2 separate regions of the Homo sapiens genome follow, and region 2 is linked to region 1. The links come from fine-mapping of genetic effects on gene expression. A gene starts in region 1. The other region holds a variant in brackets. All regions are shown on one strand. Distances are between the middles of the regions.

What was found.
Region 2: its variant is fine-mapped to the expression of PIM3 in whole blood (INTERVAL, PIP 0.95).

The regions. Positions count from the first base shown.
Region 1 is chr22:49,958,721-49,963,089 of GRCh38, forward strand. It overlaps PIM3 (Pim-3 proto-oncogene, serine/threonine kinase), which reads left to right and starts at 2,052. Exons shown (of 6, transcript NM_001001852.4): 1 at 2,052-2,312; 2 at 2,405-2,514; 3 at 2,598-2,648; 4 at 2,722-3,091; 5 at 3,969-4,145; 6 at 4,220-4,369. The coding sequence starts at 2,228. MIR6821 (microRNA 6821) reads left to right here and starts at 4,146; the gene lies at 4,146-4,219. RefSeq lists silencers at 1,025-1,084, 1,225-1,504, 1,545-2,184, 2,235-2,384, 2,525-2,574 and 2 more.
Region 2 is chr22:49,935,116-49,939,484 of GRCh38, forward strand. No RefSeq gene overlaps it. Among named protein-coding and RNA genes, the nearest start is that of CRELD2, 19 kb to the left of the region's middle. RefSeq lists silencers at 1-277, 766-1,060, 837-1,376 and an enhancer at 788-1,627. The variant T/C (reference allele first, on the strand shown) is at 2,401.

The DNA of each region.
Region 1 (4,369 bases):
TTTCAGAGCAAGACCCGGGGCCTAGGGAGAGCCAGGGTGGGGTGCCTGCCCGCCAGAGCCTGGTCTTCTACGGCCAGGATGACTCAGGGAAGACTGGCCTGGAGCCTGACATGTCAGACTCAAGGAAGACTAGCCTGACATGTCAGGCTGAGGACCCTCGCCCCTCCAGACTGACATGAACTCAACTGTAGTGGTCACCCCCTAGACCTACCGTGCTCTCCAGCATCTCTGCCCACCTCTGCTGCGTGTCCAGCACAGAAGAGGGCAGCCCCACTGGACCCTCAGGTAGGTCCCCGGGAGGACCCACATGGGCAGCAGCCCCTCCTCCTTCGCAGGTGCTGTGTGGATACTGCTGGAGGGGAAGGCTTGGGGTGTCATCCTACCAGGGATCTGATCTCGGGGGAGCCCTGTGCTGGGTGCGTGGTGGGTGGGGGAAGGCTAACCCACCAGCCCCAACCCTGCCCTCGTACTGCGGGAGAGAACTGGACAGAGCTCTGGGAAGCAGCGGCTGGAGGGGGAGGGGCCTGGGGACAAACAATGTCGCGTTGGCTTTGATCCTCAGGACCCAAGGGACAGGAAGAGATGAGCTAGGCAAGAGAGGAGCCCCCAGGAGCACAGGCATGGGCCCAGGCAGCGGGCGACGAAGCGAGCCCCAGAGGGCGCCCAGATGGCAGGTGGGCCTGGGCCAGTCCCGAGAGCCACAGCCTCAGAAGAGCTGAACAGGGGAGTGGTGTGTGAGTGGTCAGCGCAGGGACAGCGATGGTGACTGTATAGAGATGAGAGGTCAGACTTAGGGGAGGCTGGAAGCTCCGAGGCAAGTGTGTGTGCGCGCTGACGGTCACACCAGACCGCCCGGGGATGTCTGCCACAATATTTAGACCCCTGAGGGCCACTGAGAACGCCTGGCAGTGCCAAGAGGACCAGCCCCTGGGCCCTCTGGCCCCCAACTCTCAACCCACTAGCCCTGGGGCTGGCGGGTGGCCACTCACGTCCTGGAACCCTGAGCTGCTCTCAGGCCGGTGACTTTGGACCAATGTTGGCAATCTGTGGGTTTGCACCAAACCACACAGGTGAGTCAGACTTCTGTACAGAGAGCAGGGAAGGGGCACGACAGGGTGAAGTCCAGACCAGGGCAATGTGTACCCCGGCTGTTCAGCCTTTGAGTGCGGCTGTCGCAGCAATCAAGGTGGGCTCCCTGGTGGAGGTGGACAGCAGCTGCTGGAGAGCCCGGAGGGCAGCCAGGACCGTGTCAGACGGCAGGAGTCGGGCGGGGCCACTCCAGGCACCGGCCAGCAGGGCAGAGGTACCAGGGAGGGCCCTCGGGCTGCGGGCGTGAGGTCAGAGCCCAGGGTGAGGAGGAAGCATCTCCAGCCAGGTGCGCTCTCGGCCCCCGCCGGGGCTGCGAGGCTGGGGGCGCTGCCGCTGCGAGGGCTTCCAGAGGAGCCGGCGCTACCTCCCCGCGCGCCCGGCCACGTGCGCGACGGGATGCGCAGACAGCCGGGGACGCAGACTGGCGGCGTGTGTCACCTCGAGGCCGCGGGACAAGCGCAGGTCGCCTCCCGCACTCCCACACCCCCAGGAACCCTGCTCGGGGCCGGCGGGTGACCTTCCTAGGCACTGCTGGGGGCGGAGCCAGGAAACGGCTCGCCCCGCCATTGGCTGGGGCGCCGGATTTCTTTAAAAACTCCGGCTTCCATTGGCTCGTGCAGTCCCTCCTCGTTCTGCCCGAGGCGCCACGGCCGCCACCCGCGCGGGCACTGCGCCTGCGCGGAGTGAGAGCGTGAGCGCGGAGAGCGGACCGACGCGACACGCCGTGCGCCTCCGCGGCTGCGCTACGAAAACGAGTCCCGGAGCGGCCCCGCGCCCGCCGCACCCGGCCCTCGCCCGCCCGAAGACAGGCGCCAAGCTGCCCCGCCGTCTCCCCAGCTAGCGCCCGGCCGCCGCCGCCTCGCGGGCCCCGGGCGGAAGGGGGCGGGGTCCCGATTCGCCCCGCCCCCGCGGAGGGATACGCGGCGCCGCGGCCCAAAACCCCCGGGCGAGGCGGCCGGGGCGGGTGAGGCGCTCCGCCTGCTGCGCGTCTACGCGGTCCCCGCGGGCCTTCCGGGCCCACTGCGCCGCGCGGACCGCCTCGGGCTCGGACGGCCGGTGTCCCCGGCGCGCCGCTCGCCCGGATCGGCCGCGGCTTCGGCGCCTGGGGCTCGGGGCTCCGGGGAGGCCGTCGCCCGCGATGCTGCTCTCCAAGTTCGGCTCCCTGGCGCACCTCTGCGGGCCCGGCGGCGTGGACCACCTCCCGGTGAAGATCCTGCAGCCAGGTACGCGCGGGGCCGGCGGGGCCGGGGCCGGGGCCAGGGCGGGGACCGGGGGCGCCCCGGGCCGCACCAACCCCGCCCGCGCCTCCCTGCAGCCAAGGCGGACAAGGAGAGCTTCGAGAAGGCGTACCAGGTGGGCGCCGTGCTGGGTAGCGGCGGCTTCGGCACGGTCTACGCGGGTAGCCGCATCGCCGACGGGCTCCCGGTGAGTCGGACCGCCGGGCGGGCCCGGGTTTCTCGCGCGCCTTGCGCCTCGCTTGGCCCGGCCTGACCCCCGCGTCTCCGCAGGTGGCTGTGAAGCACGTGGTGAAGGAGCGGGTGACCGAGTGGGGCAGCCTGGTAAGTTGGGGCACGGGCGGCGGCGGCGGCGGGGGGCGGGCGCGGGGCTTTTGCTGACCGCCGTGTCCCCCAGGGCGGCGCGACCGTGCCCCTGGAGGTGGTGCTGCTGCGCAAGGTGGGCGCGGCGGGCGGCGCGCGCGGCGTCATCCGCCTGCTGGACTGGTTCGAGCGGCCCGACGGCTTCCTGCTGGTGCTGGAGCGGCCCGAGCCGGCGCAGGACCTCTTCGACTTTATCACGGAGCGCGGCGCCCTGGACGAGCCGCTGGCGCGCCGCTTCTTCGCGCAGGTGCTGGCCGCCGTGCGCCACTGCCACAGCTGCGGGGTCGTGCACCGCGACATTAAGGACGAAAATCTGCTTGTGGACCTGCGCTCCGGAGAGCTCAAGCTCATCGACTTCGGTTCGGGTGCGCTGCTCAAGGACACGGTCTACACCGACTTCGACGGTGAGCGCGGGCGCGGGGCAGGGAACGTTCCGGGGGCCTTGCCGGCGGGTTAACGCCTGCAGGGGCGGCACATGGAGGGGCTGATGACTGTTGGGCGGCCGCGCGCCCTGGGTCTGCTCTCGTGGGGAGCAGAGGCCCACGCGCTACCCTGGGGAGGGCTGAGCGAGGGATCAAGAGCGGGATCGTGCTGGGTGGGGGCTAGGGGCGCGCTCAATATTGCTTCCTCCATCGCGTTGGGGGGTACGGGGCCTCTTGCCCCGGTGTGGGAGGCGCGTGACATCCTTCCGGCCCGAGAGACCCCCGGCTGGGGGCGGTAGCGGAGGAGTCTCCGTGCGTGACGCAGGGCGCAGCCGGGCTGGGTCTGCGCCGGGAGCCTGGAGGCCCCCGCGGCGCGGTTGGAGTGGCGGGGCCTCCCCTGCGTGGGGGCGGGAGCTGCGTGCGTGCGGAGCGCGGGGGCGCGGCGGCAGAAATCCCCGCATTGCGGAGCTTGGGGAAGCCGGGGCTCCCCGCCCGCCCCTCCCTCCTCCCTCCCTCTCTCCCCTCCCCCCGTTCCCGCAGGCAGGCGCGCCGGGCGGTAAGGGACCCGCGCTGTCCCCCCCCCACCCAGGTAGCCTCACAGCGCATCTGTTTGTTGTGAAAGCCGAGCTCTTACTCATGTGACCTGCTCCTCCCCCGCGGCCGGCGGAGGGGGACGGCCGGCCCCTCCCCCAGCCCCCCCATCGCCTGCCGGGGTTTTTCCAGGGTGATGACGAGCAGGATTTTGAGGCCTGGCTCTGCTTCCTGTTACTGAGGCCAGGGAGTTAACCAGCAGGGACCTCGCCGTCTGTTGAGCGGCTCTGCCTCTGTGGTGGGCGTGCTAAGCCCTGTGTCCCCTTAGGCACCCGAGTGTACAGCCCCCCGGAGTGGATCCGCTACCACCGCTACCACGGGCGCTCGGCCACCGTGTGGTCGCTGGGCGTGCTTCTCTACGATATGGTGTGTGGGGACATCCCCTTCGAGCAGGACGAGGAGATCCTCCGAGGCCGCCTGCTCTTCCGGAGGAGGGTCTCTCCAGGTGCGTGGTGGCTCGAGGCGGGGGTGGGGGCCTCGCCCTGCTTGGGCCCTCCCTGACCTCTCCGCTCCGCACAGAGTGCCAGCAGCTGATCCGGTGGTGCCTGTCCCTGCGGCCCTCAGAGCGGCCGTCGCTGGATCAGATTGCGGCCCATCCCTGGATGCTGGGGGCTGACGGGGGCGTCCCGGAGAGCTGTGACCTGCGGCTGTGCACCCTCGACCCTGATG
Region 2 (4,369 bases), 24 kb before region 1:
CGGCCACCACTCGAGGGTCACCCGCAAGCCTCGGAGTCCCTGCTCGGAGCGGGGGCTGGTGGTCGCGGTGGGGGTGGGGAGCGGGCACCCACTGGGGATTCACCCCACCCGGGCCCCCCTCCAGCCTCTGCCCGGCGCCCGGGTCTTCGGTCCGCCCTTTGCAGAGGAAGGACCCCGCCCTGCGCAGAGCGGGCTTGGGGGACCCGGGCGGGCGGCGGGGCGCGGGGTGGGGCGCGGGGGGCGGTGTTGCTCCCGCGGGCGGGAAGGGCGGGGAGCGGCCCTGCCGGGAAGGGGGCGGTGCCGGAAGCGTCAGCTGGGCTTTCCCCGGCGGGCGGGGGCGGGGAGCAGATGGGGGCGCTACGAGGAGGTGGGGGGAGGGGACGCAATGGAGGTGCCGGGGGTGCGCTGAAGAGCGAGACTGGGGCAGGGGGATGAGGGTCTGGGAAGGAGCAGGTGTTGGGGACGGAGGGTGGGGGCGGGGAGTGGGGGCGCGGGGAGGAGCAGGGTGGGGGCGGAGGGGAGGATGGGGGTCCGGGAGGAGCAGGGGCGGGGACGGAGGGGAGGGTGGGGGTCCGGGAGGAGCAGGAGTGGAGGCGGAGGGGAGGGTGGGGATGTGGGAGGAGCAGGGGTGGGGCAAAGGGGAGGGTGGGGGGTTCAGGATGAGCAGGGGTTGGGGCGGAGGGGAGGGTGTGGGGGGTCCAGGAGGAGCAGGGGTAGGGGCGGAGGGGAGCCTGGGGGTCTGGGAGAAGGAGGGGTGCGGGGTGTGGGGCCTGGGGTGAGCAGGGGTGGGGGCGGAGGGGAGGGTGGGGGTCCGGGAGGAGCAGGGACGGAGGGGAGGGTGGGGGTCCGGGAGGAGCAGGGACGGAGGGGAGGGTGGAGGTCCGGGAGGAGCAGGGGTGGAGGGTGTGGGGCCTGGGCTGAGCATGGGAGGGGACCTGCAGCCCGTGCCCAGCCCCATAGGGACCCGCCCGCGCTCCTCCCCCGCCGCCCCGGCCCCGCGCTCCTCGTCGCTGGGAACCCCCTGCGGGAGCAATGACGATGAGCAGGACGATGGCTGTGAGGGCCCGGCCCGAGCTCTGGGGCGTGGGCCGGAGCGCGGTTGGCCTTGACCTTCTTGGAAAGCCCTTGGCGGCAGGTGACTCCGCTTAGTCACGGCCCCGGGGGCGGGGGCTCCCCGAAGGAAAGGAGCCCCCGCGGGAGCAGGCGCAGAATGAGATGCACGAGCGCCACCGCCGCCGCCGCACACCCCCCGCCCCCCCGGGGTGGAAGCCAGAACCTGCGTCCCCAGCTCCCCCAGGCCCGCCCACAGGGCGCCTGGCTGGGCCTCCGAGCTTTCCTGTTTTCTCTGCAGCCTGGCTGGGCTTAGGGAGAGGTGGGGGGTGCGCCTCTTGATGCTGGGGACGCGTGTGGCACAGGGAGCCGGGTGCAGCCAAGGCTTGGAGGGGTGCCCCCCGCCCCACCCAGGTCACACTTCACCCTTCGTGGGGTCGGGATCTGGTCTTTTTACAAGCTAGGCGCCCTCCCCCCTTTTTTTTTTTTTTTTTTTCTCAAAAATGATCACAGGGAATGAGCCTCAGCCAGGACAGCGGGCTATGAGGCTGCCTGTTGCCCCCACCAGCCTGAATTCTGGCAGGGCCCTTCTCCTCCACCCACAGCCCTCCATCCACACCCCTCCAGTGGCTCCAAGGCCCATCTGACTTGGCCTCAGTTCACCTGTTTACTTCAGGGACACCTGGTTATACTGCCAGAGGCAGGTTGGGGGGCCTGCAGGGCCGGCCTCTCTCAAATCCACTTCTGGCTCTGCGGTCCCCACAGCACTTCCTTACCCCTTCCCCATGCTGGAATCTGAGAACCAGATATGGGGGTCCTGGTCTCAGCATCCCTTTCCATCCGGGGTGCCCTGCTGCTGCCAGCTCACGTGCCCACCATCCCATCCTCCTCAGGGTCAGTGTGGCTGCAGAACGGCCTCCGGGGAGAGCAGGGTGGGGGCTGTAGCCTGGTGCACCCCCAGCCTGCTGTCCCAGGTGAATGCAGACCCCTGGCTCAGCTGCTGACCAGATAACAGTGGCCCTTGTGCCGAAGCCTGGGTGGGGGCTGGGGTACCAGCCCCGGGTGTCTCCGGGCACAGAATGGCACCCACCCCCACCCCACCCGCAGGCAGCGGCCAGCAGGAGACATTGTCCGTCCCCCTCAACCCTGGCTATTAATAGCTCCTCTGGGCTAGGAGCGGCTATAAATAGTCCCAGCCCCTCACACAGGCCCATTCAGGCACCCGCTGCCTGGGTGTGCACAGCAGCCACACTTGCGCTCACTCAGAGCTGTGCACGCGGGAACCGTGCCACTTCTGCCCCTCCACGCCATCTGCACTGCACAGATCCAGGCTGTCCCTGCAGCCCTCAC[T/C]GGGTCTCCTGTGGCAGGGGAGGGCCCTGAACCCTCTGGAGGCTTTTCCCTTGCCCCCTCCCGCCACGCCCAGGGTCCCCTTGGGGCTTCTAGCTACTCTAGGGTCTTGCTCTGGGGCTTCTGGAAGTCAGATGCATTCACCCAAAGCCAGCCTGGGGCGGGGGGAGGTCCACCTGGAGGGAGGCCCAGCCCCTGCAGAGACCTAAGCCTGGCCTCTGCCCCAAGCACTGCTGCCTCGGGCCATGAGGCTCACAGGGTCTCCTTAGCCCAAGGCTGGTCCAGCCTCCCACCTGCCCTGTGGGGCAGACGTCACTGAATTCCCACTCCTTGCCCTGGAGGCCTCATTGCCGTCAACTAGGCTATGGCCCCCACTGTGACTCCCACTCCCAGGGTGACAGAATGGGCACCTGGTCCAGGAAAGCCTGCTCTGTGGACCCCCTACCCGTCCACACTGTCCACGCCCCATGGCTAGTGGTGACAGGAGACAGGATGGGGGGCATGGGGGCTGCTGTTATTGTGTCCAGAGGAGAAAAGGAAAACAATCCTGTTTACGGAAAAGGAATGTCCGTCCACTGCCGCCAGCCAGTGGCCTTCCTGGGGGGACAGAGGCCCTTTGTTGGGAAAACAGGAAGCGAGGATTTCCAGGATCTGCCAGGCCGCCCGCCGGCCACCCGCCCCACTTCCGCCAATTCTCGGCAGCCTGCGCTGGCCACCAGCTGCCCGTCGGTCCATCCACGTTTCTGTCTATCCGTCTGACCGTGGGGCCCAGGCGTACAGCCTTAGCACATCCTGCTCTATGTGGTGCCTCAGTCACACAGGGACAAACACCCACAGGGTCCTCGCAGGGCCTGGGAGGGCTGCCTGGGAGCTGAGACCCAAGGAGTGAGGACCCGTGCCCCACATAGGGAAGGGCAGTGCCAGACATGGAGAAGGCGGATGGGGCAGGGGCCACGGGCCAGGAACCGGGGAGGCGGGAACAGCCAAAGGGAAGCTGTGCCAGACTCTCCCCTCCCCACCCAAGAGCCAGGGATGGTTTTGGGGTTAGGGGTCACTGTGTCCTTACTACCCAAACCCACTTACAGTCCATGGCCCACGCGATGCTCGCCTGTCACTGACCCGGGACAGCATGGGCTCACTCGTGCATGAACACCAGACGTGTGTACACTCAGCGGACACTCACCTGTGCACACACAGCACACACGTGCACACACCACGGACACTCTGACCTGTGCACACACAGCACACACGTGCACACTCAGCGGACACTCACCTGTGCACACACAGCACACACGTGCACACACCAGCACCCCCCAGCACGGATGCAGGCACCGTCATGAGCACGGAGACCACCCCAGGACACCAGCAGCTGCACCCCCCGGCGGGGCTGCACTGGCCGACAGTGCCCAGGGGACTGCTCCCAGCCCCTGTGGGGGGCTTCTGTGATTCTGTGTGGGTTCCTGTGTGCCCTGTTTGGGCTCTCACCGGTCAGAGGGGGCTGGCACAGTGCCTGTGACCTCAGTCCTGGGCAGGGCCAGGAGGTGCCAGGAGCAGGCAGGCCTGGGGCAGGACTCTGTTTAGGGCCAGCTGGAGGACCCTCTGCCCCCACCTCCACATCCCAAGTCGGCAGCTTCCTCCCACTGTGGTGGTGATACAGGAGATAGAAAGAAATTATTTAGGTAGATAATGAGGGCAAAAGAGTCCTCAGCAGAACCTCCCTTCTAACAAAAAGCAGGCCCGGGCGAGGTGGCTCACAGCTGTAATCACAGCACTTTGGGAGGCCAAGGCGGGCGGATCACCTGAGGTCAGGAGTTCCAGACCAGCCTGGCCAACATGGTGAAACGTCTCTACTAAAAATACAAAAATTAGCCAGGCATAGTGGCGGGTGCCTGTAATCCCAGCTACTTGGGAGGCTGAGGCAGGAGAATCGCTTAAACCTGGGAGGCGGAGGTTGCCGTGAGCCGAGATCGCA